Linked DNA regions of Homo sapiens: region 1 is linked to region 2. A link means that fine-mapping ties the variant in region 2 to the expression of a gene that starts in the linked region. Tissue or cell type: blood mononuclear cells. Region 2 holds a variant in brackets; the other region holds the start of a gene. All regions are shown on one strand. Distances are from middle to middle.

What was found. PIP is the estimated chance that this variant, and not a neighbour inherited with it, causes the effect.
Region 1: it holds the start of CPNE1, and the variant in region 2 is fine-mapped to the expression of CPNE1 in blood mononuclear cells (TOPMed, PIP 0.95).

Annotation. Positions count from the first base shown.
Region 1 is chr20:35,663,462-35,666,086 of GRCh38, forward strand. It overlaps CPNE1 (copine 1), which reads right to left and starts at 1,439. Exons shown (of 16, transcript NM_152925.3): 1 at 1,299-1,439. It overlaps RBM12 (RNA binding motif protein 12), which reads right to left and starts at 1,439. Exons shown (of 3, transcript NM_006047.6): 1 at 1,299-1,439. RefSeq lists enhancers at 148-267, 262-767, 608-657, 978-1,087, 1,272-1,776 and 1 more and a silencer at 1,006-1,300.
Region 2 is chr20:35,820,740-35,823,497 of GRCh38, forward strand. All of the region lies in intron 2 of PHF20 (PHD finger protein 20), which reads left to right. Among named protein-coding and RNA genes, the nearest start is that of PHF20, 50 kb to the left of the region's middle. The variant G/A (reference allele first, on the strand shown) is at 1,403.

The sequences.
Region 1 (2,625 bases), 160 kb before region 2:
CCTTCAACAAACCTTCAGTTGCCATCACACTTTTTTCCAGTGGGTTATACTGACTCTATTATTGAATAATATAAAACGGTCCCTACCAACTTCTTCAATTTATATTAGGTTATCTCTGAGAATCCTGGAGCCAAGGAGGGTTTTAGGGCCCAGAAATCTCTTAAAGTCTGCAATTCTCAGCATGACACCACGCAGATGAGTAAATGTTTAGCACTTAATACTGAGTAACCCTCACAAGAGCCCCTCAGATTTGTCACTATAAAGCACACGTTGGAGGCACACAAAAAGCCCGTACGTTTACAACCTAGCAGCTAAGCCTGCTGCACTGGCGTCCAACCCCGTCACTAACCTGTAGATCCTCAAAGTCCCTCCCACCACCCAATTCACGTGGCTGCAAACTAATGCAGCCAAGCTTCAGAGAAACTCAATTAACTCTCCATCAAAAGCACCCACCCTCCGCAGCCCACTGGATCTCGTCCTCCTGAAATGCCACAGGATCCTCTCCCGAGGGAGCCGTAAATGTGCTGCTCACAGCAGCCCCTTCCCTACTGGGGGACCAAAGGCCTGGCATCTTACTACAATTCTCAGAGCCTCAGGAGGCGTACTCACCCCACCCCCTCACCTCCTAGCTTCAGACGCCGGCTTCTCAAAACTGCTACACCCTCGAGTAAAGCCCCTCCCCAGCAATGGACCTCGGAGGCATTTCACTGCAAACCCCTCCACCTTCAGGCCACGAAGGCGGCCGGTTGTGACACTTCCTTTCTGAACTCACAGGAGTGTACCGACTACAGCTTCCTCCCCACAGGTGTGACCTGGGTCCCCTTTTGCTGGTAGGCCACAAAGGCCTCCTTTCCATTTCGGGTTGAAGGAGTGTCCTCACTACGATTATCTCCCCACCTCCAGGCACAGAGATGTAGTTATAACCTCTGCTTCACTGGGGGAGACAAGAAATCCTCCGTACTCGGGATGTAGGCGTGTTTTTACTGCAGTCCCCGTTAGCTCGCAGGCCGCTGAGCCAGCCAGCTCTGGCCTGCCCCCTCTCAGACCACGGGGGAGTCCTCGCTATGGCCTCGTCCCCACTTCGGTACGCAGGCTCATCCTCTTGCGTCCTCCTTGCATCCTCTCAGATCTCAGAGGCCTAAGTGGCATCCCACTCCCCCTGCAGCCCTGCCTCGACCCTTTGTGTGGGGCGCTAGTTGCCGCGGGCTCGAAGGCCTCCGAAGGCCCCGCCCCGGGCCACCAAGGGGCACCACGAGCCCCGCACAGCCCCACCCGTTCAGGGGCTGCGGGAGTCTTACCGGGGAAAGCTGCGCGGCACCAGAACCCAGACCCCGAATTACCCCCCGCGCGAGTGCCTCCGCCCCGCGGCCGACAGCCCCAGCCCGAACGGCTTCCCGGAGCCCAACGCAGCCACCACCTCCTTCGCCGCTTCACAAAATGGCCGTCGGCCCGCTCAGCGGCTCCGCGTTCCAGAAGGGGGAGGAACGGCGTGGTTGACGTCAAGGGGCCGCGCAAGCGCGCTGACGGTCTCGGGCGATCTCCCGGAAGTTACTGGGTTTTGTGCTAAGAGGGGGATATTCAGTCCCTGCTTGCGACTGTTGGCGCACAGGACCGACCTTGGGCTAGTGGCCCTGGCGGGTGGGCTGGGTATGAGTGTCTAGCTTGGCCCTTCACTGCAAGACTGTGCAAATTGCTTCACGTCTTCCAGTTTCCGCGGAAGGAGCGAATTGTGCTTACCTCTAAGTTTTTTGAGGATTAAATGGACCACAACGTGGTGGCTAGTTATTATATCCTGACAAAACAGCCAAAACCTGATTCTTTTTTCCCATTTAAGAGTTTATACAGGCCGGGGGCCGGGCGCGGTGGCTCACGCCTGTAATCCCAGCACTTTGGGAGGCCGAGGCGGGCGGATCACGAGGTCGGGAGATCGAGACCATCCTGGCTAACACGGTGAAACCCCGTCTCTTCTAAAAAATACAAAAAATTAGCCGGGCGTGGTGGCGGGCACCTGTAGTCCCAGCTACTCGGGAGGCTGAGGCAGGAGAATAGCGTGAACCTGGGAGGCGGAGCTTGCAGTGAGCCGAGATTGCGCCACTGCACTCCGGCCTGGGCGAAAGAGCAAGACTCCATCTCAAAAAAAAAAAAAAAAAAAAAAAAAGTTTATACAGGCCGAGCGCGGTGGCTCACGCCTATAATCCCAGCACTTTGGGAGTCCGAGAAGGGCGGATCATGAGGTCAGGAGTTCGAGACCGGTCTGGCCAACAAGGCAAAACCCAGCCTCTACTAAAAATACAAAAACTAGCTGGGTGTGGTGGCGGTGCTTGTGGTCCCAGCTACTTGGGAGGCTGAGGCAGGAGAATCGCTTGAACCCGGGAGGTGGAGGTTGCAGTGAGCCCAGATGGCGCCATTGCACTCCACCCTGGATGACAAAAGCGAAACTTCGTCTCAGAAAAAAAAACAAAAAAAGAGTTTTAATCTAGGGCAGGGCGCAGTGGCTCACGCCTGTAATCCCAGCATTTTGGGAAGCCGAGGCGGGCGGATTACCTGAGGTCAGGGGTTCAAGACCAGCATGGCCAACATGGCGAAACCTCGTCTCTACTAAAAATACAAACATTAGCTGGGCGT
Region 2 (2,758 bases):
CACCTGGCCAGAATAAGTACTTTCAAGTGGGTAGAGTGCCTCTATGTGTGTATGTGTTTTGCTTTTTTTATATAGAGGGTGAACAGAGGAGATCTCTCTGACAGACATTTAAATAGAGTCCTAAAGTAAGTGAGGGAGTGAGTCATGTTAGTATCCAGAGGAGAGAGGGTTGCAGACAGAGGCAGCCAAGGCAGAAGCCCTGGCGTAGGAGCAAGCAGGGCATTCAAGCAATAATAGGTAGGAACATGTGGCTGGGAGGGTAGAGAGTGAGAGGCCAGAGGTAGGAGGTGAGCCCAGAAAGGTCAGCAGGGGCCAGATCGGCCATAATAAGGAGTTTGGACTTTATTCTAAATGTGATAGTAAGTCATTGAAAGGTCTTAAACAGGGAATCAATGTTATCTGATTTCAAGTATTAAAAGTGGCTGTGGGCCAGGTGCAGTGGCTCGCACCTGTAATCCCAGCAGTTTGGGAGGCCGAGGTGGGTGGATCATTTGAGGCCAGGAGTTTGAGACCAGCCTGGCTGACATGTACTAAAAATACAAAAAATTAGCCTGGAGTGTTGGTGGGCGCCTGTAATCCCAGTTACTCAGGAAGCTGAGGCAGGAGAATTGCTTGAACCCGGGAGGTGGAGGATGCAGTGAGCTGAGATTGTGCCACTGCATTCCAGTCTAGGCAACAAGAGCGAAACTCTGTCAAAAAAAAAAAAGGGGCTGTGAGCCTAGGCAATATAGCAAAACGCTGTCTCTACCAAAAATACAAAAAAAAAAAAAAAAGCCAGGCATGGTGGTGTGTACCCGTGGTCCCAGCTACTTGGGAGGTTGAAGTGGGAGAATCACTTGAACCTGAGGGGCAGAGGTTGCAGTGAGCTGAGATGGTGCCACTTCACTCCATCCCAGGTGACAGAGCCAGACCCTGTCTCAAAAAAATAAAGTTGCTGTGGTTATTGTGTGTAGAATATGCTGTAGGCAGCCATGGGCAGAAACAAGAAGAGCAAGGATCTTTTGTATTAGTCCATGTGAAAGATGATAGTTGTTTGAACTAAAAAGCAGTGGGGGAGTTGATGAGAAGTGATCAGCGTCTGTATAATTTTTGAAGGTACAGCTGACAGATTTGCTGACGACATGTAAGAGATAGAGAAGAGTCAAGGATGACTCCAAGGGCTTTTTCTCTCGGTACCAGTAGATGGAATTACCACATGCTGAAATGGGGTAGACTTCAGTAGAACTAGGTTCTAGGGAGATGATAAGCAGTTTGGTTTTGGGCATGTTAAATATATGAGATTCCTTTGAGATGACTAAGTGGAGATGTTGAATGGATAGTTGAATAACAGAGTCAGATGTTCAAGTGTGAGCCCTGGGTTAGAGATAGACATCTGGGAGTTGGGCTGAGTGCGGTGGCTCAC[G/A]CCTGTAATCCCAGGACTTTGGGAGGCCAAGACGGAAGATCGCTTGAATCCCAAGATCGAGACCAACCTGTGCAACATAGTGAGACTCTGTCTTACAACACATATATACACAAAAACCCCAAGAAACCTAGCTGGGCATGGTGGTGTGAGCTTGTGGTCCCAGCTACTGGGGAGGCTGAGGTAGGAGGATCACTTGAGCTAGGGAGGTCAAGGCTGCAGTGAGCTATGATTGTGCTGCTATACTGTATGATTGTGCTTGGGTAACAGAGCAAGACCCTGTTTCAAAAAAAAAAAGAAAAAAAGTAAAGGAATTTGGGAGTTGGTAATGAGTAAATGGGATTAAAAAAATAGACTATATTTTAGAGCAGTTTTAGGTTCACAGCAAAATTGAGCAGAAAGTACAGAGTTCTGGCTGGGCACAGTGGTTTATGCCTGTAATCCCAGCACTTTGGGAGGCTGAGGTGGAAGGATTGCTTGAGCCCAGGAGTTTGAGACCAGCCTGGACACCATTGCAAGACCCTGTCTCTACAAAAAATAAAACAAATTAGCTGGGGTAGGGGGTGGCTTGCACCTGTAGTCCTAGCTACTTGGGAGGCTGAGGTGGGAGGATCGCATGAGCCCAGGAGTTTGAGGCTACAGTGAGCCATGATTATGCCACTGCATGGCAGCTTGGGTCACAGGGTCACAGAGCAAGACCCTGCTTCTAAAAAAAAAAAAAAAAAAAAAAAAAAAGAATGTATCAAGTTCCCATATTCCTGTGTTCTCCCTCCAGCCTCCCCCACTTTCAACATCCTGCACCAGAGTGGTACATTTATTACAGTTGATGAACCAATATTGACACCTCAGTACCACCCAAGGACCATAGTTTGCATTAAGGTTTGCTGCTGGTGTTGTATTGTTTATGGATTTTGACAAATGTATAATGTATATGTGTATGTTACACATTTATCAAAATCCATATGTGTACATTATACATTTGTCAAAATCCATAAAAGTTACAAAAGTACAAAAAAAGTACAATATTCATAAAAAGACAACTTGATGCTCAAAAAGTTTCGGATTTTGGATGTTTGGATTTGAGATGCTCAACCCATAGTAAAATTCGCTCTTTTTCAGAATACAGTTGAGTTTTGCCAAATTTGACAGTTCACGCAAGCCCCACCACAATCAAGATATGGGCCGGGAATGGTGACTCATGCCTATAATCCCAGCACCTTGGGAGGACAACGTGGGAGGATTGCTTGAGCCCAGGAGTTCAAGACAAGCCTAAGCAACATAATGGGACTTCGTCTCTCAAAAAAAAAAAAAAAAAACCATAATAAAAGTAATAATAATAGCTGGGTGTGGTGGTGTGTG